3 separate regions of the Homo sapiens genome follow, and all the other regions are linked to region 2. Evidence: fine-mapped expression QTL. A gene starts in region 2. Each other region holds a variant in brackets. All regions are shown on one strand. Distances are between the middles of the regions. Region 1 overlaps NLRC5 (NLR family CARD domain containing 5). Region 2 holds the start of CPNE2 (copine 2). Region 3 overlaps CPNE2 (copine 2).

The links.
Region 1: its variant is fine-mapped to the expression of CPNE2 in whole blood (TOPMed, PIP above 0.99).
Region 3: its variant is fine-mapped to the expression of CPNE2 in tibial nerve (GTEx, PIP 0.97).

The regions. Positions count from the first base shown.
Region 1 is chr16:57,021,379-57,029,378 of GRCh38, forward strand. It overlaps NLRC5 (NLR family CARD domain containing 5), which reads left to right. Exons shown (of 49, transcript NM_001384950.1): 4 at 878-937; 5 at 2,407-2,475; 6 at 3,990-5,640; 7 at 6,694-6,777; 8 at 6,924-7,007. Among named protein-coding and RNA genes, the nearest start is that of NLRC5, 36 kb to the left of the region's middle. RefSeq lists an enhancer at 5,073-5,591. The variant A/G (reference allele first, on the strand shown) is at 3,292.
Region 2 is chr16:57,089,247-57,097,246 of GRCh38, forward strand. CPNE2 (copine 2) reads left to right here and starts at 3,337. Exons shown (of 16, transcript NM_152727.6): 1 at 3,337-3,544. RefSeq lists silencers at 2,859-2,928, 2,949-3,198, 3,309-3,358, 3,419-3,828.
Region 3 is chr16:57,127,615-57,135,614 of GRCh38, forward strand. CPNE2 (copine 2) reads left to right here. Exons shown (of 16, transcript NM_152727.6): 12 at 235-289; 13 at 7,161-7,212. Among named protein-coding and RNA genes, the nearest start is that of CPNE2, 39 kb to the left of the region's middle. RefSeq lists an enhancer at 7,619-7,668. The variant G/A (reference allele first, on the strand shown) is at 3,860.

The DNA of each region.
Region 1 (8,000 bases), 68 kb before region 2:
GACAAGGTCTTGCTCTGTTGCCTAGGCTGGAGTGCAGTGGCACAATCATAGCTCACTACAGCATCCAACTCCAGGACTCAGGTGATCCTTCCCACTTCAGCCTCCCAAGTAGCTGAGACTACAGTAGAACTATAGGTGCATGCCACCACATTAGGCTAATTTTTCATTCTTTTGTAGAGACAGGACATCACTGTGTTGCCCAGGCTGGTCTTGAACTCCTGGCCTTAAGTGATCCTCCTCCCTTGGCCTCCCAAAGTGCTGGGATTATAGATGTGAGCCATCACACCTGGCTAGAGGTGTTTTTGTTTGTTTGTTTGTTTTGCAACATGGTCAGAAACAGTGACGGGGAGCGCCTTCTGCCCTCTACTGATCCGTGGGGATTTCTTGGGCACCTTCTGTTTGCACAGCACTGAGGGGAAACACAGGACATTGAGGGGCAACAGCGTTTTTGGAGAGAAAATGGGAACTCACTTAAGAACCCTACTTCAAGGCAGAGTGTGGGAATTGCGGGGGGCGGGGCGGCGCATGCACATATGTGCAGACATATGCAGATACACACAGTGCATATACATGTGGGTATGTGCGTAAACCCATGTACACATGCATGCAAGTGTGCCCACATGCATAACACATGCATGCCTGTGCACACACATACATAAACTTGCATGCACTTGCATATACACACATTTCTGCCCAGCACTGCCTTCAAAGCTCACCACCACATTTTCTCCACAACAGATAACTGAGTGTTCCATTTAGTTCTCCCTTGCTGGGTATCTCCCTGTGAGATGAGCCCTGAGCCAGGCGCCAGGCCAGAGCTGGTCCCCAGCATCCCTCGACAGCCCCATACCACATTATACTCTCCCCTCTCTTGCAGGGTTCACCAGCCAGCTGGGAGCTGAGGGGAAAAGCCAACCTGAATCTCAGCTCCACCATGGTGAGGACTGGAGTTGGGGGGTGGGAAGGGGGTGGTGAGCACTGTGAAGTCCCCACTTCCAAGCTGGAGGAGGCTGTGGAGGCTGTGGTGGCTGGTCACAGCCATTTCTCATAGGCCATGCTCTTCGTCTGTCCCTGACCCATTTGCAAGTGTGTCAAGCCCCTAACTGTGTCTCCCAGCCCCACCTCCTCCTGCAGTGACTTTCAAGGCTTTAGCTTGTCCCGTTACCAATTCTAAAGGGTCTAACCTGGAACCCCTCAGGAAGCCTGTTCTCACTTTCCTGCCCGCAACCCGCAGGGCCTCATCTCCCAGCCCCAAAGTGTCAGGCTTCATGGGGAAGCCCTAACCACCCCCTCCCGACTTGTACACCTTGGACTTGACACTCACCCACAGCTGCTGTCTTCAGCGGGGGAGCCTTTGGCTGATTTTCTGAAGGAGCTCGGAAGGGCCAGTGATTAAATAATGACCACCTACTGATTCGTGGGTCACACTTTCATCTCAGCACCTTGATTTCTACAGAAGCATTGACTTTACTTATCGCTGTGCATGGCAGTAATGCCAACAGAAAACCCACCCTATAACCTCAGCTCCCCAGTGAATCAAAACTGTCCAAGTCCCTGGTCCAATAGGCCCGCATCACTGAGCTGGCATCATTATCTCATGGCTGTAACCAGATCTGATTGATATTTGGCCAGTGAGTCCCTTTTTAATATAGGATTTGTTAAGATATTGAAGTGCTCTCGAACTGGTTCCAGCCTCCTAGCTGGACAAGGAGCCCAGGGCCCTGCTCCAGGGGCTGTTCCTATTGGTCACTTAGCTTAGCTGTAGGAGGACCCTGCTTGACTTCTTAAAATTCTTTCCTGAGTCCTCTTTCCTTTCTCCCTCCCTTCCTTTCTGGGTCCCCTTCCTTCTTGTTTTCCTTCTTCCTTTCTCAAACTCTTCCAGAAAGGCATTAAAGTGATTGTTGAAAATCCATACAATGAGACAAGACTCCAGAAACTATTAAGGGAAGTGAGGAAATGTGGGTGATAAGAAATCGGGATGATAAAACCCTAACAGAGGAGGGAGGTTGCAGGCCTGGCCAAACTCACTGGGAACTTCACTTATATGACCACCGGCGGCTTCCATAGAGCTTGGTCCTTCCCTGATGGACAGATGGCCATTTAGTGCTTGGAGCTGAGTGTTTCTGGGGGCTGCTGGCTGTTGGCCCTGCTTCCTGCATCCTGGACTGCAAGACTGCCAGGCCCAGAACATCCACCTTCCAATGGGGGTGCCTAGAAGTCCACTCTGCAAATAGAAGCTGGTGTTGACCCAGCCTCTGCCTGCTGCCTGCCTTTCCAGTCCCTGCATGTGGGTGTACTTGGCTGCCTGCCACCTGTCTGTGGACTGGAGTTCCCCAAAGGTTCTGGGTAACCCCTCAGCCCAGATCCCCAGACCCCACTCCTCCACCCCTTCCTTTGCTTTTTCAGGCCTGAAGCGCCCACATCAGAGCTGTGGGTCCTCACCCCGCCGGAAGCAGTGCAAGAAGCAGCAGCTAGGTGGGTACCAGTGTGGGGAGGAACATAAACAGAGAGATGGGGTTGCCTGGGGGCCAAGACCCGGACCCTGGACCTTGTCCCCTGCCAATAAGCCTCCAGAGGCCCAGTGACTCTTGTCTCGCAAGTTTCCAGGAGAAAAGGACTGGAGGTCTTGCACAGGCAGAGGAGAGGCCTGGGCTGGCAGCGAAGGGGCTCCCCACCCATCTGGCTGCATGGGGACTTCTCTGAAGAGGGCTCCGCTGAAGGAGCTGGAAGCACCATACAGGTCTCAGCTTCGCTGTCCAGGCTTTTCCAGGGACACCCTATGTCCTCAGTGTTGAAGGAGACCCAGGGAGGAGACCAGTTTGGGGGTGAGCAGGGATGGGGAGGGGTGAGGAGGCCTGGGAGAAACCTTCAAGACAGAGGCCCTGGGGGCCCATGGGGAGACATGGAGCTGCTTAGGGCAGGCCAGGCCAGTGAGAGAAGAAAGGGGACTTCTCTCATTCTTGACCAGTTCTCAGAATGGTCCTCGTTCTCCACGAGTTGTCCCACTAACTAGAGCCTTCTCTGCCCCCACTGCTGCCAACCATGGCTATAACCAGAGGATTCACATCCGCTCAAAATAGTTCACTACCTTGGCCTTTCCCCATAGGGTTCCCCCAAAAGCAGCCCCAGCCCTTTCCCTGGGTCACCTGAGACCTCTCAATGACCCAGGAATTAAAAGGTTAACATCTGGCACTGTAGGGGCCCAGCTCCCACAGTTCCGATCGGTAATGCCTAGGCCTACAGGTTGTTAGTGCTCACCCCTGGGCATTGCAGAACTGAAATATTGGGAAG[A/G]GGCACTGGGGATCCAGATATTACAGAAAGAGGTTGTTTCAATAAGATATTGCAAAGTAGCTGGGCGCGGTGGCTCACACCTGTAATCCCAGCACTTTGGAGGGCTGAGGCAGGTGGATCAGTTGAGCCCAGGAATTCAATACTAGCCTGGCCAACGTGACAAAACCTTGTCTCTACTAAAAATACAAAAATTAGCTGGGTGTGGTGGTGTGCACCTGTAGTCCCAGCTACTCAGGAGGCTGAGGCAGGAGGATCACTTGAGACCAGGAGTTTGCGGCTACAGTAAGCTAGGATCGTGCCACTGCACTGGAGCCTGGGCAAGACTGAGACTCTGTCTCTGGGAAAAAAGAAAAAAAAGAGATGTTGCAAAGGAGGTGCCCTATTCCCCTCCCCCCATCTTACTGAACCCTTACACCACGTGTACTATTGCAGAATGGATAGAACCGTGACCCACACTTCCCCATTCCCACCTGCCTGTTTAAATAGCTACCGGAGAGCCTATGCTCCCTTAGAACTGATTCCTTCTGGAAGTTGGGGTGGCACAGATCCCCCTATGGTGCTCTTGACACCCCCACCCTCACCCCATCATACATACACATCTGGGGCTACAGGCTCCCAACAGCCCAATACTGGGGCAAGAAGACATGAGCAGAGGGCCGGGGGGTCCTCTCCTCATGCCATGTCCCTGCCCCTTGCAGAGTTGGCCAAGAAGTACCTGCAGCTCCTGCGGACCTCTGCCCAGCAGCGCTACAGGAGCCAAATCCCTGGGTCAGGGCAGCCCCACGCCTTCCACCAGGTCTATGTCCCTCCAATCCTGCGCCGGGCCACAGCATCCTTAGACACTCCGGAGGGGGCCATTATGGGGGACGTCAAGGTGGAAGATGGTGCTGACGTGAGCATCTCGGACCTCTTCAACACCAGGGTTAACAAGGGCCCGAGGGTGACCGTGCTTTTGGGGAAGGCTGGCATGGGCAAGACCACGCTGGCCCACCGGCTCTGCCAGAAGTGGGCAGAGGGCCATCTGAACTGTTTCCAGGCCCTGTTCCTTTTTGAATTCCGCCAGCTCAACTTGATCACGAGGTTCCTGACACCGTCCGAGCTCCTTTTTGATCTGTACCTGAGCCCTGAATCGGACCACGACACTGTCTTCCAGTACCTGGAGAAGAACGCTGACCAAGTCCTGCTGATCTTTGATGGGCTAGATGAGGCCCTCCAGCCTATGGGTCCTGATGGCCCAGGCCCAGTCCTCACCCTTTTCTCCCATCTCTGCAATGGGACCCTCCTGCCTGGCTGCCGGGTGATGGCTACCTCCCGTCCAGGGAAGCTGCCTGCCTGCCTGCCTGCAGAGGCAGCCATGGTCCACATGTTGGGCTTTGATGGGCCACGGGTGGAAGAATATGTGAATCACTTCTTCAGCGCCCAGCCATCGCGGGAGGGGGCCCTGGTGGAGTTACAGACAAATGGACGTCTCCGAAGCCTGTGTGCGGTGCCCGCACTGTGCCAAGTCGCCTGTCTCTGCCTCCACCATCTGCTTCCTGACCACGCCCCAGGCCAGTCTGTGGCCCTCCTGCCCAACATGACTCAGCTCTATATGCAGATGGTGCTCGCCCTCAGCCCCCCTGGGCACTTGCCCACCTCGTCCCTACTGGACCTGGGGGAGGTGGCCCTGAGGGGCCTGGAGACAGGGAAGGTTATCTTCTATGCAAAAGATATTGCTCCACCCTTGATAGCTTTTGGGGCCACTCACAGCCTGCTGACTTCCTTCTGCGTCTGCACAGGCCCTGGGCACCAGCAGACAGGCTATGCTTTCACCCACCTCAGCCTGCAGGAGTTTCTTGCTGCCCTGCACCTGATGGCCAGCCCCAAGGTGAACAAAGACACACTTACCCAGTATGTTACCCTCCATTCCCGCTGGGTACAGCGGACCAAAGCTAGACTGGGCCTCTCAGACCACCTCCCCACCTTCCTGGCGGGCCTGGCATCCTGCACCTGCCGCCCCTTCCTTAGCCACCTGGCGCAGGGCAATGAGGACTGTGTGGGTGCCAAGCAGGCTGCTGTAGTGCAGGTGTTGAAGAAGTTGGCCACCCGCAAGCTCACAGGGCCAAAGGTTGTAGAGCTGTGTCACTGTGTGGATGAGACACAGGAGCCTGAGCTGGCCAGTCTCACCGCACAAAGCCTCCCCTATCAACTGCCCTTCCACAATTTCCCACTGACCTGCACCGACCTGGCCACCCTGACCAACATCCTAGAGCACAGGGAGGCCCCCATCCACCTGGATTTTGATGGCTGTCCCCTGGAGCCCCACTGCCCTGAGGCTCTGGTAGGCTGTGGGCAGATAGAGAATCTCAGGTGAGTAAGAGTGGAGGAGGACCGGGGAGGGGATTGGGCTTTTGGGGGAGCAGAGGCCAACCAGTCTAGCAAACCTCTGCCAAGAGGACTGGATAAGAATCTTGAATATCAGAACATAATGGCCTGCAATGCAAGAGAGGAAGCTCCATACCTTGACAGGACCTCTGGAGTCCAAATGGATCCTCCTCTTGTCTGTGGTTTCTGGACTCTCAGTCTCTCTGTCAATCATGGGCTGAAACCACAGATCCAGGCTGTCTATAGAGGCTGGTGGACTTTGGGCAAGTATATGGAGCACACACATGCACACTGTCTAGGCCAGAGTTTCTTCGTTCCTAAAACGAATCTGTAACAATAGCCAACTCATATGGTCATTGCAAGAATGAGATGGGATGGTGCATGAAAAACATTTTGTAGCACAGTGCCTAGCACAGAGCAAAGGCTCAGTGTGCATATTAGCTAGAGAAAAGGCTAGGCTGCAGTAACAGAGAAACCTCCTCCCCAAATACAGTAGGTTAAATAATGTAGAATTTTATTTCTCTCTCATGGAAGAGTCAGAGGTAGGTGGTCCAGGTCAGTGGAATGGCTCAGCTCCACGCAGTCATGCAGGTACCCAGGTCCCTCCCATTTTGCTCCATTATCCCCTTGGGAATCCTATCTGCACAGTCAAAGCTACGTCATGGGTATATCTGTGCTCTGGCTTGGGAACAAGGAAAGAGCATGGAGGAACATGTCAATGCATTAAAGTTCAGTCCTGAAACTAGGATACATCCCTTCCACTCACATTCCATTGGTGAGAACATAGTCACCTGGCCACACTGAGCTGCAAGGGAGGCTGGGAAATGTGATCTCTGGCTGGGAAACCATGTTCCTCATGATAGCTCTATTGCTGTAGATGAAGTGGAGAATGGGCTTTGGTGGACGATTAGAAGTCTCGGCCATAATATGTATTTGTTAGTACTACTGTATTAAGCCCCATCTCTCTGAGGGGATGGCGATGACTTCTCAGCTCTGCCCAGCACTGATCCTCTGACACTTCGCTTCTTCTTATGGCAGCTTTAAGAGCAGGAAGTGTGGGGATGCCTTTGCAGAAGCCCTCTCCAGGAGCTTGCCGACAATGGGGAGGCTGCAGATGCTGGGGTGAGCCAGGCCTTGGAGCTGAGAAGGGTCTTCAGCTGGGGATGCCTGGTACTCTCCTCCCTCTCCTTAATCCTACACAAGGCAGATTCCTGGCCCCGCCCTTTTCCCCTCCTCGTTCCTCCCCACCATCTTTGCTTACTCTGTAGGTTAGCAGGAAGTAAAATCACTGCCCGAGGCATCAGCCACCTGGTGAAAGCTTTGCCTCTCTGTCCACAGCTGAAAGAAGTCAGGTGAGTGATCTCCAGGAGGGCTCACTGACTGGGGAGATGAGCCACTGCCCAGGTCCCAGAGTCCCCCTGGGGCCTGCATGTTCCTCCAAGTCTGACCAGTAGTTTTTCAGTGAGACCCAGAGAGGGAAGGCATCAGTCCAAGTACTCAGTAGGGCTGAGTCCAAACCCAAGGCTCCCAGAGTCCCCAGAGCAAGGCTTCCTTCATCTAATATTTTAGACTGTCTTGGAGGAGCATGAGTGTTAAGGCTCCCTCCCTCTTTCTGAAATCCCAGGAGAAGGGATAGCAGTGCGTAGGCAGGAATCAGGCACTGTGGGTACACATAACTACATGAAGCACCACACACCTTCACATTTGTTCACACATGTCTACACTTGCACAGAAGTACACAGGCATATGCAAGAATATGCACCCACACATGCCCACTCATAGGTGTGCACATGTATGCAGCGCACACATGCACCTTTAACTACATGTACACATTTTGATGCCAGCACACTCTAACTAACTAAGCTTGTATGCACAAATATACTCCTGCCCTGTGTCTGGGACTCAGTACCATGGGGAGGAGTGGGACCAGTGACCCTCCTCCCTGGCAGAACGCTGCTAGTTTATATGGCACCTTTATGACATTTAGAGAAGGCACCACTTCATCCACACAGATGCAGCCTGTCACTAAGGTTCAGCACTTGTTGAGTGAAAATAATAAGTTGGACCACAGTCCCTATTGTCGTCTCGGCTGGGCATCTGTGAACCGTGATTAAGCCAAGGTTCAGAAGTACTGAACTTGTTGACATTTTTCTTCCCTGGCTATTGAAAGTGACTTTAATTTTGTCTTTCATCACCCACCATTGTTCTTAATCACCCTCACTCCCCTCAACTCATCTGTCTCCCCAGCTAGGAACCCAGGCAAGGCTGGCTTGTGAACAGGTGGGGAAAGTGAGGTCAGAGAGGAATGCGCTTGGCTCAGGGCTCTGGGTGAGTCAGGGCCACAG
Region 2 (8,000 bases):
CTCAGGTAGGTGTTCCAGCTGACAATTCCAGCTGAGGTTCCAGATGACAGCCAGCGTCCAGTGATAGCCATATGTTCAAGAAAGCCTTCTAGACAATTTCAGCCACCACCATGATCTGACTGCAACTGTATGGGAAACACTGTGCAACACCTGCCCTCGATGAGCCCTGAGGACCCCGGAAGTGTGAGGGATAAGTTTTGGGGTGATCTGCGATGCAACATAAATAACTGGAACACCCTCCCTCCGCCAGTCCTCACACACTCCTGGCCCAGCCAGATCCCTGAACAGCTGGCGCTCCTTCAATGTGTCTTTCATTCACGAGCACACTGACATGCATGGGCAAACCTGGGTATTCTGATCCGTTTGTCCAAACAGCCTGGACTGTGAAAATAAACACCCAGATGGCAGGTGTTGACACACATACCCTGACATGGGTCTATTTCGGGGCCTTCAGGCCTCCCACTGTGCACTGAGAGGTCTCCACCTGGGCAGGGAAAGACTTCGTTTAACATTTTGCAGTCTTGTGTTGGGTGTGGAATGAGGATAAAGCATGTAGAATCAACCTGTGATGGATCCTTGGCCTTAATCAACTTCTTCAGGGCTCTCCTGATCCCTGGCCTTTTTTTTAAAGATAGCTTTATGGGGATATAATCCATACACCATGACATTTGTCCTTTTAAAGTGTGTAAGTCAGTGGTTTTAAGAATACCTACAGTTGTGCAATCATCACTATAATCTAACTTTTTTTTTTTTTCATACAGGGTCTTGTTCTGTCACCCCGGCCGGAGTGCAGTGGTGTGATCATGGCTCACCACAGCCTCAACCTCCTAAGCAATCCTCCCACCTCAGCCTCCTAACTGGGACTACAGGCAGGTACCACACCCGGCTAATTTTTTTTTTTTTTTTGGTAGAGATGGTGGGGTCTCACTATGTTGCTCAGGCTGGTCTTGAACTCCTTGCCTCAAGTAATCTGTCTGCCTCGGCCTCCCAAAGTGCTGGGATTACAGGCAGGACCGCACTCTGCCTAGAATCTAACTTTAGAACATTTTTTATCATCTCCCAAAGAAACCCTTTGCCAATAGCAATCACTCCCCATTCTCCACTCCCCGGCCGAGGCAACCACAAATCTGCTTTGTCTGTTTGTGGATTTGTCTATTCTGGACATTTCATCTAAATGGAGCCATGTAATATTTGTCTGAGACTGGCTTCTTTCACTGGGCATAATATTTTCCAAGTTTGTCCATACTGTAGCATGTATCAGTACTTCCCACCTTTCTTTTTTTCCTTTCTTTTTTTTTTTGGAGGGGGGATGGAATCTCCCTCTGTCACCCAGGCTGGAGTACAGTGGCGCAATCTTGGCTGCAACTTCCGCCTCTTGGGCTCAAGTGATTCTCCTTCCTGCCTTCCGAATTGCTGGGATTACAGGTTCTTGCCACTACGCCTGGCTAATTGTTATATTTTTAGTAGAGACAGAGTTTTGCCATGTTGGCCAAGCTGGTCTTGAATTCCCGACCTCAAGTAATCGCCCGCCTTGGCCTCCCAAAGTGCTGGGATTACAGGTGTGAGCCACCACAACTGGCCAGTAATTCGTACCTTTCTATGGCTGTATAATATTCTATGTTGTGTGGATATACCACATTTTGTTTTTCCATTCATCAGTGGATGAACATTTGCGTGGTTTCCACTTTTTGGCTATTATGAATAATGCTGCTACGTACATTTGTGTATGTTTTGTGTGGCCATATGTTTTCATTTCTCCCGGGTAGATATCTAGGAGTGGAATTGCTGTGACCCCTGGCCTTTGTACTCTGCCTCCTTGGCTAGGGATCTAGTATCTTCCTTGACAGGCCCAACTATCTCATCCTTCAGGTTTCTTAAAGGAAGCCTCGCTGACTCCCATGGCTGAGTTGGGTCTTCTGTGCCACCCTACCTCCAATCTTTGCACATTTCATATGGTGATATGATGGCCTGGGTCCTGATCTTGGCCCCCACAGGTGAGCAACTTGAGAGAGACTATCTGCTTTGGTTCACCACTGTCCATCCCAGTGCCTGGCTCTCCTGCTGCTGGAAAGACAAGAGACAGATTCTGAGGCCAGAGCAATCAGGAAAGTCTTCCTGGAGGAAGCGGGGCTGGAGTTGGGTTGATAGGTTGGTTTGCCCCAGAGCGGGGCAGAGGGCTTTGATTGGCTTCGGTGGAAGAAAGGTGAAGAGAGCTTGGAGAAAGGAAAGATGGATGGGTGACAGGCAGGCAGAGAACAAAGCTCAGAGCCCCGGGGGCTGTTTAGTCTCGGCCCCTGTAAGGCTGCAAAGTGCCAGTGACTCAGACGTGGAGGGAGGCTCACAGGCTGCAGCGCGCGAGGCTCCCACATTAACCCTCACCTGCCTGGAATCGAAAAGCCACAATGGAAGCACTCGGCATTAACCCTCAGCTGCCCAGTCCTTGAGCCCCAGGGCCAAGGGCTGTGGACATGGCCTTGAGATCCCCGGGAAAGCCCCGCCCCCCAGAATCTGGTTACGTGAGGCTCAGCCTTCTGATGCCCGGTGGTGAACTTGCCCAGAGAGCACCTAAATACCGCGGAGTGGCCAAAGGCTTGAGCGCCCAGCGACAGACAAGTGTCCTAAGAATTGGTGCCTCTTCTAGGGAAAAGGAGGCCTGGGCTCCAAGGCCTTAAAGACTCGCCTAATTTTCCGCACGGATGAGTAGACCCAGGCCCAGTTCGGATCCGTCTTTATCTTATCGTCTGTGTCAGAGAAATATGTCATATTTCCAATCTCTGGCGGCAAGAAAATGCCGAGCTCTTTTGCTATTGAAAAAAAAAAGGGAAGAAAACACTGCGGCCCTAATCCTGCCCAATACAACCCAGAACCCAGCCTTGGGTGTTGCCCCGAGGGCGCAGCGCCGCTCCCATCGGCGCTGGGGGTCCAAGCGGCCCTGGGGCCCCGCAGGCCCGGGCTGAGGCCACCCCTCTGTTCCCGCGTCGGTGGCCCTGAGCGCACGGCGCTCGGAACTCGGAGGTGCCAGAGGCTCGGGCAAAGCAGGCCTGGGGAGGGCGCGAAGCCGCGTTGTTCCGATCCTCAGCCACCTGAGTCCCAGCCTGGAACCTTCGGACCCTCGCGTTCGGCCCGAACGTTCGGGCCCCCTCGGTGCCAGGCGCCCCGAGTGCCGCGGCGCGCCGGGCGCGGGCTGGGAGCGGCGGACTGCGGGCGGGACAGCGCCCCCGCTCCTCCCGTGGGAGAGCGCGCGCCCCTCCAGGAAGCTCCCGCCTCGCCTCCCACTTCCCTCCCCACTCCCCTCCTCGGCCGGAGGGAGGAGCCCGAGCCGCCGCCGCCGCCGCCGCCCGCCCGCCCGGCCCGGGAGGAGGACCGGACCCCGAGCGGCTGGGAGCGCACGCGAGCGGGCCGTGGCCGCGCGGGCAGCGCCCTGAGCCTGTCCCGCGCCCGCGGGCCCGGCCGAGCAGGAGCAGCTCCCGGGGATGCCCGGGCGGCTCGGAGCGCGGGCAGCGGCAGCCGTGCGGTGAGGGCGGTGGCGCCCGCGGGACCTGCGGTGAGTGGGGCCCGGGCAGGCGGGGCAGCTTGGCGTGAGTGCCCAACTTCGGCCTTGGGGCTGGGCTCTTTGATCCAGCTGCGGGTCCGAAGGAACCCGGGTTCCGCCTCGGGGGGCTGCGGCGCTCTAGCCCCCGCCGCCAGCGCGAACCCGGACTCCGGCGCTTCGGTGACTCAGCTCCGACCCGGCCACGCGGGGGCGCCCCGCCGGCTCCCGGACTGCGGGGAAGGGCGGGCGGGGTCCCTGGGGAGGGGGGCGCCCTCGGGGGTCCGAGCCCAGCTGCTTTGGGGACCCTTCCACCCGCCCCGAGGGGCTTGGAGGGCGTACGGGAGGTGGAGACCCGCCGCTGCCGCAGCTGCTGAAGGCGTGAGGTCGCCCTGGCTCTCGGCGGGCGCTGGCTCCTCTCCGCTCCCCTCTGCCCTCCTCCCACCCCTCAACACCCACCCCCTGCCCCAGGCAACTGCCGGAGGGCCGGCTCCCAGCCCCGGTACTGGGAGCGCAGAGGGGGAGTGGAGCTGGGCAGCTTCCCAGAAGTCGGAGTGTGTTTGCAAACTAGTTTTTGCGAAAAAGCTGTCTGGCACCTGTGTGTTTAAAGGGGGTGTGGGGGTGGGCATGGAGAGAGCGGGCGAACAAGGCCCTCTCTTATTCCCCGTTTCTCACAGCGATGCTCCTCTGAAAATAGAGGGGTCTTACACCCTCTTCCCTGCTCTTCCCACCCCATCCCCCAGCCTCGCTCCACGTCCCCCCGAGTTCAAGAAGCTCTCCTATGGGGAAGGGGCTGCTTCAAAGGGGGCTGTGATTTGCCCAAGGTCACAGATGCTGCTGGCTCTGGTAGCTAATAGGGTGTTCATCTTGCATCTGAATCCCCTGCCCCATATGTACTGGGGGAAGGGACAAGGGGTCTGGAAGAATGATCTTCCAGACAAAACGCCCTTTTTTTTGTCTGCCTTAGTTTTTTGCTCCCTTAGAGGTGTGTGCTGTCATCAAAGGTTGGGGGGCTTTTTCTGCCCCTTGGGCATCCACAGCTTCACGGACTGCAGGGAGCCCATGGTTTTCAGGAAACAGGCGGTGTGCGCAGATTGTAATCCCTGGCAGCTGCAGCCTGCCCTGATGGGGAGGCCTGGGAGACCTGGGTCTGAACCCCACCTATGACCAACAGGGAACTTGGCCCAGACCCTCCCCCCCTGTGGCCCTCTGGGTCACCATCTGTGAAATGGGCTGATGTTCCGGGGCCTGCCTCCTGGAGAATGGACACAGCATGAAGGCGTGGTTTTATGGCATTCCGCCTGGCATAGGTCCAGGTGAGCTCCAGGACCGCCCCAGCCAGCTGGATTGGAAGGGGTCACCCAGGCAGGTTTCTCCATGGAAAGAACCAGGGACGAAGGATGTGGACGCTTGGGTTCGTTTTGCGGCCGTCACTTCCTGTCTGCGTGCCTTGTCACCCCTTGGACTTGGGGGGTTTTCTGTCTGTAAAATGAGGCAAACTGTGACATGATCCAGCTTACAGTAGGGCGGCTGGGAGGCTGGAACTGGGGAACAGGGAGCAGACGTTCTGCAAGTAGGGAGCACTTCATGAGTGGCAAGTGTGGTGTCTCTGGTGGTGTTCCAACGGACACTCCCTCTGGAATGTCATGAGAATTAAAAACTGGGGCATAAGGGAAGAAGATGGCTGAGAATGGAGCCTCGGTTTCTATGTCTGTAAAACAGTAAGTACTGGACCCCATCTGGTCCTCCTCCCAGTCCTCAGTTTTTATATCTATACACCTTCATATTCTTTTCAGGTAATTGTGTATTTCTGCAAAGGTAGGATTAAATTAGATTGCAAGGACTCGGGTGCCAGCACTTATTGGTACGTGGTGAGTGCCTGGTTAACTGTCATTGTCATTATCCATGGGAATATTAAGAAGCCTGATGTGGGTGACTGCATCCAGGATCCTTTGTGGGGTTGTCTCAGGCCAGCTTGCTCCTCCCCCTCCCGTCAGGACTTCTGGGCTGTTCTAGGGGCAGGGGCCTGGGGTGAAAGAAGACCAGGAGAAGTGGTAGGTCTCATCCAGGTGTCCCCATTTCCCCACATCTGGCTGGCCTCACAGGGCTCTAAGGAGTGAACAGAAAACAAAAGAGCACTCTCTAGTAATTTTCTCCCTCCTGTCAGAGCAGGAGGCATCATCGCCAGGCACGGTCCCGATCTGAGAAGCCCTCAGCTCAGGGTCAGGGTGCCCCCAGCCTGATGGAGGTCTCTGTCCCTCTCCCCTCCCCTGAACCTTATTCATAGATGGCACTGGGGCTACCGAATCAGGAGCAAAACACCTTGAGGACCCAGCTCCTTCCCCCTTGCAGAATATGGCCTCAGGGAGTGGAGGTGGGATCTCCCCCAACCCTGCCAGACACGGTGGTGTGGGCTCTGTGGGAGCTGGGATGCCAGGTCACCCTGTGATCTTGGCAGGCAGCATCTAGAAAAGTCCACAATCACACATCTCCCCACCTCCCTGTCCAGAAGGGAGGACATAGGGGTCCCACAGTGCCTGAGGACAGAGCCCAGGTTAGAGGCGCCTCCTGGCTCACATCCCAATGTCTTCTGCCCTCATTGGGCCACTGGACCTCGGCTGTCACTCCCATGGCAGAGTCAAGAAGACTGCTGTTCCATACCCTGGAATATTTCTTTCTTTCTTCCTTTTTTTATTTTTTATTTATTTATTTTTTGAGACAGGATCTTGCTCTGTCACACAGGCCGGAGTGCACTGGTGTGATCTCAGCTCACTGCAACCTCCACCTCCCAGGTTCAGGCGATTCTTGTGCCTTAGCCTCCCAAGTAACTGGGATCACAGGTGCACACCTAGCTAATTTTTGTATTTCTAGTAGAGACGGGGTTTTGCTATGTTGGTTAGGCTGGCCTTGAACTCCTGGCCTCAGGTGATCCACCCACCTCGGTCTCCCAAAGTGCTGGGATTATAGGCATGAGCCACTGTGCCCGACCATGGAACATTTCTTACTTATCTGGCCACACTTGCTCTGAGGTCTGCAATGAGACTGACTAGTGAGATTGTGTCACCATCCCTCCTCACTGCTGCATCTCCTGGTTGTATTTTTCTTGGGGCATTTGCCACTCTTTAAAACCATCTTCTTTACTCATTGGTGCACCAGCTTATCTGCCTCCCTCCCCAAAGGGTGTCAGATCCACAAAAAGGCAAGAGCAAACAGTGTCTGTCTTGTTTAGGGCCATGTCCCAGCACTTAGAACAGTGCCTGGCACATTGTAGGTGCTCAGTAAATCCTTGTGTGAGGAATGACTGCACCTGCCCCTCTTTGCAGCCTCCTGTTAAATGAGTCTGTGATGTTGAGTGATGGATCCTGGGAGAATTACGAGCTTGCCCTCTTGAGTCTCTGGAGGGATCTCTGGCTTACCATACTGAGTGCTGGAAGGAGCATGGCCTTGCTGACAGCTGGATTTCAAACTTGTAGCCTACAGAACTGTGAGAGAATCTAAGCCATCCAGTGTGTGGTGCTCAACTAGCCCATGGCCAACCAGAGTTTGAAACCCAGTAGCTCAGCTCCCAGCATTCACTGCACTCTTACAATACACTTTTCTCAGGTTGGGCATGTCTCTGAAAGACTGATGGGAGAGCCGGGCGTGGTGGCTCACACCTGTAATCCCAGTACTGAGGGAGGCCAAGATAGTCAGACCACTTGAGCCCAGGAGTTCAAGACCAGCCTGGGCAACATGGCAAAAACCCGTCTTTACCAAAATAAAAAATAAACAAAATTAGCTGGGTGTTGTGGTGCATGCCTGTAGTCCCAACTACTTGGGAGACTGAGGTGGGAGGATTGCTTGAGCCCAGGAGGTCGAGGCTGCAGTGAGCCATGATTGTGCCACTGTACTCCAACCTCGGTGAAACAGTGAGACCATGTCTCAAAAAAAAAAAAAAAAAAAGACTTGGGGTCCAACCAAAGGAAAGAGGGATTGCAGGAGTTGTCTGCTGGGAGTTGGGCATATTCCCTCCTGTGTTTTAGAGAGGGGACAGCCAGGGCACATCAGGCAGGCCAGATATCCTCAGCTCCTGATAAGACACAAAAGCCTGCAGGGATACAGTAGAGTTGTAGGGAGAATGGGCTTCTGAACCACACTAGGCATGTCCACACCACAGGGCCTTTACACATGCTGGGGAACAGGTAGAGGAAACAGCGCATGCAAAGGCCCTGTGGTGGGGACATGCCTAGCTTGGTTCAGGAGCCCATTCATTCATTCATTCAAAAATATTCACTGAGTACCTGCTGGGCACCAGCTATGGCTGGGATACAGCCATGAACGAGAGAGACCAATGCCTTGCTCTCCTGGGGCTCCTGGTCTATTAACATCCCAGCTCAAATGTGGCCTCCTCCACACTGCCCTATCACAATCACTTCACCCTGCTTTATTCTCTTTATGACATTTTCCACTCTCTGAGATTTCCTGCCCTTGT
Region 3 (8,000 bases), 38 kb after region 2:
TACCATTGTCGTGTCTGCCACAGGTATAGATGTGGTCAGGCCACATGTTCACCAGGTCCCCAGAGGTGGGTTGGGCTCATTAGGTAGATGATCCTAACAGCTTTTTCTAGAGGTGGTGAGCTCCTCCTTTCTGTCCTTGGAAGTGTATGAGGCAGAGTGGGCCCAGCCCTGGGCAGAGGGTCGGGTGGTGTCCTCAGGTGTCTTACAGTGTGTTTCTCTTCTCTCTCTGATTAGTGATAAGATGTTTCCAGCTCTGGGATTCGGGGCCCAGTTACCCCCAGACTGGAAGGTGAGTGAAACCGGAGTTAGTTTCCTTTTGGTTGAGATGGGGTTTGTGTGTGTGGCCTCTCGGGGATCAGCTCTGGAAAGGTCTTGGGCTGGGGCCCTGTTGCCCTGCCTTCCCTGTGTTCACCCCAGGCCACGCTCATTTCTCAAGCCTGATCCTTGGGCAGGCACTGAGGCTGTAACGGGGCAGCACGTTATGTTCTCTGTTTATGAGACCCATGTGGAGTGGGGGAGACAGATAGGATTGCCAGATGTCGCAAATCAAAATACAAGACACCCAGTTAAGTTTGAATTTCAGGTAAACAATGTTTATTTTTATGTGTTTATTTTTATTTATTTATTTATTTAGAGACAGAGTCTTGCTCTGTTGCCCAGGCTGGAGTGCAGTGGCACAATCTCCACTTACAGCAACCTCCGCCTCCCAGGTTCAAACAATTCTCCTGCCTCAGCCTCCCGAGTAGCTGGGATTACAGGTGCCCACCACCACCCCGCAGCTAACTTTTGTATTTTTAGTAGAGAGTTTTACCATGTTGACCAGGCTGGTCTCAAACTCCTGACCTCAGGTGATCCACCGGCCTCAGCCTCCCGAAGTGCTAGGATTACAGGCCTGAGCCACTGTGACCAGTGCAGATAAACAATTTTTAAAGTATAAGTATGTCCTGAATATTTCATGGGACATACTTATACTTAAATCATCCATTGTTTATCTGAAATTCAAGGTTTTGTATGGATCTAGGGGTACAAGTATAGTTGTATTACGAGGACGTATTGTGTGAAATATGGACTTTTAGTGTATTCATCACCTAAATAATGTACATTGTACCCAGTAGGTGGCATTTCATCCGTCACCCCTCCATCCTCTCGCTGTGTGGAGTCCTCAGTGTCTGTTATTCCCCTCTGTGTGTCTGTTCTGTGTGCACCCATTGTTTAGCTCCGTCTTATAAGGGAGAACATGCAGTTTTTTGTTTTCTGTTTCTGAGTCATAGTGGGCATCCTGTATTCTATATGGCAACACTAAAGACAGGTAGTGTCATCGGTGCTGAGGTGGGGGCACCGTAGGCCTGTGGGGAGCCGAGGAGGTAACCCAACCCAGCTTGGGGCCATCAGGCTTCCTGGAGGGGGCAAGCTCTAAGCCAAGAGGGGAAAGGGAAGTAGCAGAGTGACTAGAGGTGGCAGTGGGGCAGGGGGAGCCTTCAGGGCAGAGAACAGACTGTGCGAAGCCTGCAGGACGAGCTGGAGGAACTGGCAGAGGTGGGTGATAGACCCTCCATTGGAGGTGAGCAGGGTGGAGACAGATGTGGGCGTTAAAGGGCCACGGGGACCCCTGCAGGGACCACATAGGGGCTCATCAGCAGATTGGCATTTCTAAAGGCCTCTCCTGGCTGCTGAGTGGGGCGTGGCTAGGGCGAGAGTGGGCAGAGTGGAGGGTGGAGAGAAGGGGCGAAGGCAAGGAAACTCAGGGCAGAGGCCAGGACTTTCTGTGTGACCAAGTGAGTGTGGGCCGAAGAGGTCACCAAGATTTCCAACTGGGCACTGAGGCGGGGGTGGTGCTGCTTACTGAGATGAGGAACGGGGTGGGTGCTAGGCTCAGCAGGGGAGATGGTAAGGTGGGAGTCCCAGGAGAAAGGTGGATGATGGCTGGGCACAGTGGCTCACGCCTATAATCCCAGCACTTTGGGACGCTGAGGCAGATGGATCATTTGAGGTCAGAGAGTTTGAGATCTTCCTGGCCAGCATGGCAAAACCCCGTCTCTACTAAAAATACAAAAATTAGCCCAGCGTGGTGGCACATGCCTGTAATCCCAGCTACTTGGGAGGCTGAAGCAGGAGAATCACTTGAACTCGGGAGGCAGTGGTTGCAGTGAGCCGAGATCGTGCCACTGCACTCCAGCCTGGGCAACAGAGTGAGACCCTGTTACAAAAAAAAAGATAAGTGGTTGATGGGTCAATGGGTTTGGGCTCTGGGGAGACAGAGAGAGACCTGGCCACCTGGGCCAGGACCCATGGTGCCACCTCTGGGAGGATGAGATTGCTAGGGAGACAGGTGGAGTGAGAAACAGCCACATGAGGCGGGGTGCAGTGGCTCACACCTGTAATTTCATGCTTTGGGAGGCCAAGGCAGGAGGATTGCTTGAGCCAGGAGTTCAAGACCAGTCTGGGCAACACAGTGAGACCCTGGCTTTACAAAATTTAAAAGTTGGCTGGGTGCAGTGGCTCACACTTATAATCTTAGCACTTTGGGAGGCTGAGGAGGGTGGATCACAAGGTGAGGAGTTCGAGACCAGCCTGGCCAACATGGTGAAACCCCGTCTCTACTAAAAATACAAAAATTAGCTAGGTGTGGTGGCGGGAGTCTGTAATCCCAGCTACTCGGGAGGCTGAGGCAGGAAGATCCCTGGAGCCCAGTGAGCTATGAGTGCACTGCACTCCAGCCTGGGTGACAGAGTGAGACTCTGTCTCTAAAAAATTAATTAATTAATTAATTAAAATAAAAAAAGAGACAGCTGCATGAGAGAGCCAGGCAGATGAAGCGGAGACTGAGCCCGGGGGCAGAGCAGGGAGGAAGTGAAGGAGGGAGGGGCAGAAAGCAAACCCATAAGTAGCAGCATTTATTGGGCCCTTAGAATGTTCTAGATACCACTCTGCCTGCTTTACCAGTTTCAACTAATTCTCACCAAAGCCAATGAGGTAGGCCCTGTTATGAACCCATTTTGATCGTTGAGGAAGCCAAGCAGTCAGGGCTCGGGGAGGAGGGAGTGGGGTTGGAGGCTGCCCCTGGGCCTGGTGAGGTAAGGCTGAGAAGAGACCATCCGTTTCACTGACCATGGCTGGGGCCATTATGGCAGAGACAAGATGGGGAGGGGAGAAGGGCATGGAGACATCAGCCAGTGTGGCAGTCAGCCAGCGTGGAAGTCAACTGGCTGTGAGGGAGGGGAAGGGTTAGGTCAAGCAGGTCTAAAGGCTGAGGAGGAGCCAGGAGAGGCGTGGAGGTGAATTGAAGCGGGGGTCCCTGAGGTGTGGTTGTGGGTAGTCCTGGGGCAGGAGGCGGGGGCTCCTCATAGAACCACGGGCACCAGGGGAGGGGTGGTTTGGTGGCTCAGAGATGGAGACGTCAATGAGGGCAGAAGCTGTGATGCTGGGGAGTCGCTGCAGATGGGCAGGGAATGCTGTCCCATTTTACAGGGCAATAAACTGAGGCTTGGAGCCTCAAAATGACTTGCCCAAGGCCATGTTCACCAACTGGGCAGTTGGACTCTAAAGTTTCTTCTCAGACACTGTTGCCTCCCCATGAGAAGCCTGTGGGGTGTGAGGCCAGAGAGCTCCTAAGCCTGCACATGGGTCTCGCTCGGCCAGTGCCCCTTCTTGTCTGCCCTGCTGTGCCGCATTGCTGTTTCCAGAGTGAATTTTTGCCTCCTGTCCTCTCTGGTCCTCTCTGGGGAGGATGATTTTCACCTAGAATTTCGGGGAGTGGCCCAAGGGCCAGGGCAGGAGATGTGGGTGTCCTGGCTCCCTGTGGTGTGAGGCTACGCCTCAGATGGGACCAAAGCTGGGCCACAGTGATGCCATTCGGGGG[G/A]CAGGGCGAGCTGGTGCGGCTGGGCCCAGCACGAGCCCGTTGCTAGGACACCAGCCAGCTTTCAAAGAACTGAATGAGATGTTTTCTTGAGCAAAAGCCTCCTTGTAAATGTCACAGGGCGATGCTGGGGAGGCCAGGGCTTGGCCAGGCTGGAGTGCCCGGCGGTGCCAAGAAAGATGCTGCGTCCAGGCTAGGAAAGGACAGATGCTGTGTCCCACCTCCCCCTGCCATGGGAGCCGCCAGGCCTGGCCCCTCCTGGCCCCTCACCCTCTCTCGCATTCTGACTCGCCTCACTCCTGCTGCCTGAAGCTCCTTCATTCACTCCCACCTCAGGGCCTTTGCACATGGCCTTCACTCAGCCCGCTGCTCCCTCTCCTGGGCTTCTGCCACCGATTTTCACCTAGAATTTCGGGGAGTGGCCTGCCCTCTGGGAGCCATGCTCACACTCACATGGGGGCCCTTCTTCCTGCCCAGAGCCCTGCCCTCATGGAACTCTGTGACTTGTTTGTGATTGCCTGGGGAAGGCACTGGGTTTCTTTCTGCCTGCATCCCAGCACCTGGCCTGCAGTGTGCAGTGCCATTGTTTGTTGACGGAATGAATTTGGGACCCAGCCCAAATTTGGGACCCCAGGCCTGAGCAAACAGAGGGGTCGGTTCTCTGAGGGTGGGAAGCTAGAAGGAACCAGAAGGAGCACGTGACCAGGCTGCCTGCCTTTGAGACCTCAGTTTCTCCCTGAGGGTGGCCCAGATGATCCCAGAGAGAACTCCTGCCCCAGAGAGTGGCTGAGGGTCTCAGGACGCGTTTCCCTTTGGAGATGGCATGAGGTCTTGGCCCTTCAACGTGAGCAGAGTTACTCAGATGAGGAACGGGATCTGGGCAGAAGGCACAGTCTGTGCAAAGGTCTGGGAGGAGGGGGAGCATACTCTGCAGGTGGGGAAACTGAGGCTCAGAGAGGACAGTCACTCTGAGATCCCTTGGGCTTTCTCCATGCCCCACCCGCTGCCTCTACCACCTGCCTCAGCCAGGGCCACAGGGAACTGAGCCTGAAGTAACTCCCTGACCTCAAGGCTGAGCCAGGCCAGGTTGGGTGAACAGGGCCATTGGCTGTCAGAAGGCAATAGGGAGTCCCAGGACAAAGGCCTGTGGCTGGCAGCCAGTCCCCAGGGGCCCCTCATCAGCTTCTGTGGCCTCCAGGAACTTGTTCTGTTTATGACTTTTCTCAGGCAAACCAGGGCAACCAGTATGGGAGGGGCTGAGCTGCCACTCCTGGTAGCATGGACACTTGTCCCCAGGCCCCACTGTGTGACCTGGGCACTCCCTGGCCCTCTGGGAACCTCACTCTTTCCAGCTATGAAATGGAGTTGCTGGAGGAGACAACCTCTGGGGCCTCTGGGGCAGATGGACAACCTTCCACAGCCCCCCTGACCGCAAGGCTGGGCCCTCCCCAAATAAAGAGGGGGGAAGAGTGGGGATGAAGAGCGGGGGGCCCGAGAAGGCAAAATATTCCTCCACCCCTATCAGCAGGGGGCTTTCCCACTGTGGTCTCTAAAATCTCCTAAAATCTGATTTTTCAGGAAGACTTTGGCCCAAGGGAGTCCTGTTTCCCTGGCAACCATTTTCTCTCTCAGCCCCTCCATACAAGCCCCCCTCGTAATCTCTATAGAGGCTCAGGAAGTCTCCATGGCAACAGGGACCTCCAGCCCCCAAACCTGGAGCCCAGACTGGGGACAGGGTGAAGTGGGCCCTGGACAGGGACAGGACCCAAGAGGGACACCAGGGGACTGGCTCTGTGCCGGGCGCCTAAAGCAGACAGCAAAGAACAGAAAACCCCATTGCCTGAAACGGGGAGGAGTCCTCCCACCACCTCCCCTCCCCTGGGCTGCCAGGGAGGCCAGACTGAACCCCACTGCTGGGTCCCTGCCCTCTCCCCCAGGAGTAAGACCAACTCCCACCCCCAGGGGAGGGGAGGGCACTGGGTCTCAGGCCTGTTCGACTGTGTGGCTCTGGTGCCTGGCTTCCCTTTTCTGGGCCTCGGTTTGTTTATTTGTAAAATGGGGACGCTGGATGCAGGAGAGCCTCCCAGTACCCCCATCGTCATGTCTTGGAGCTGAAGAGTCTGTCTGGGATTGTCTGTGCCCAGACAAAAGCCCTCCTCCTGCAGCTGAGGACCGGGGCACCCCTCCACCCTCCTCATTGAAAATCCCTGGGGGAGGAATGCCTTTGGAGGTTAGCGTGAGCTCTGGGAGCAGCCTGACCTCAGTTCGAGTCCCAGCTCTGCCCGCCAGGAAATGTGGGAAAATTCTAGTCCACTCTGTGTCTCAGTTTTGTCATCCATAAGATGAGGTGATAACAGCTGCCCTTCCATTGGGGTGTTGTGAGGAAGGAGTAAGGGGATTCCTGCACAGCAGTGAATGCGGATGTGGTACATGGTAGGAAGGGGGCTGAGGGGGATTTGGGGCTGTGGGGCTGCAAGAGAGGGAAGAAAGGAGGGACTGTCCCCCATCTGAGCTCTGCAGCGTCTCCCGAGGCCTTGGGTTCTGCAGGCACTGCAGTCTCACCCACAGCCCTGAACGGGGCCAGTTATGAGTCCTTCTATACCCCGAAGCCATGCGAGCAGCAGCAGCCGGATGTGATGGGTGCAGCAGTGTCCCGGAGTGTCCGGGTCAGTCTCTGATGATCCTCTGGGGCTGGGTGCTGGGCCTGGAGGCAGAGAAGCAGGATGAGTCCCTAGGGAGCCTATGATAGCCCCATCTGATCCCCTTGCAGCCCCCTTACACTCCCTGATCGCCAGGTCAGCTCTGAGTGGGCTGTCAGCTCACCCCCGTTTGGCTGTCTGGCGCAAGGCAGGCTCCCCTCTAAGCCCCTTTGCTTACTGTTAAGGTAGGAAAAGCCTCTGAAGCCCAGAGAAGCGGTGCTCTAGTTGTGGAGCCCACATCCAGCTGTAGCAGTGATGAGGGAGCATCCTGGAACCCTGGCCCACAGGGAAATCCCTGTCCCACCCGGGACTCTTAGAGGACTGATGGGGCATAGGCAGCCCCAGTCCCCAGAAGAGCCCAGGGTGACCTGCCAGGGTCTCAGTTTCCTCCACTATGAGGAGAGGGTGGTTGGGCCTCTCTGTGGGTCACACCCAGCAGTGGAGGTGAAAAGCAGATGTGGGGGGTATCAGTGGCCTAGAGGAGGGTAGGGGTGGGGGTTATGAGCCGGTGCTCTCAAAGGGAGCCTTGGCCTGGCAGTGGGTGGTGGCCTGGGTCTGGGTTTGGGGGCGGGAGGCTGCAGCTCAGCGTTTTCTCTGCGTTTCAGGTCTCCCATGAGTTTGCCATCAACTTCAACCCCACCAACCCCTTCTGCTCAGGTGAGTGTCAGACCCACCTGCAGCTGCCCTGTGTTTGCTACGGGCCTGGCCAGCTCCCTGGGTGGAGGGAGGGCAGAGGACAGGTTTTCATTTCTTTCTCCTTTCCCCTCCCCCTTACTGTTGCTCAGAGTGACAGAGGGGGAAGAGCTGCAGTTTGGAGTCAGATAGTCCTGGATTCAAGGCCAGCTGCTGCCCTTCCTAGCTGTGGGACCTTGGAAAGGTCACTGTACCTCCTGGGCCTTTGCCTCCTTACCTGCTCCAGGATAACTATGACAGCTGCTCTTCTCACTTTACTGGGTGGTTCAGTGAGAATTACAGGAAGCCACTGACAGGAAGTCCTGTGTAAACCAGGAGGAGGTGAGGGTGGCACCAGACACACCTGCTTTCACCTCCTTCCCACCCGCCCCCTTGCTGGGAAGGCCAGCCCTGCTCTGGGAGTACTTGGCGGGGGATCAGGGGGAGGCAGGGGCTGGGAAGTGAGTATGGTGTCTGTGTTCATCCCCACCCCTGGGCCTAAGAGGATTTCTGAGCCTCCTAGGGACAGTTAAGAAACTATTAGAGGCCGGATGCTGTGGCTCATGCCTGTAATCCCAGCACTTTGGGAAGCTGAGGCAAGAGGAGCACTTGAGCCTAGGAGTTCAAGACCAGCCTGGGCAATAGAGGGAGACCCCATTTCTACAAATTAAAAAAATTACCCAGGCATGGTGGCATATGCCTGTGGTCCCAGCTACTCAGGAAGCTGAGGTGGGAGGAAAGAAAGAGAGATGGGGAGGGGAAGGGAGGGTCAC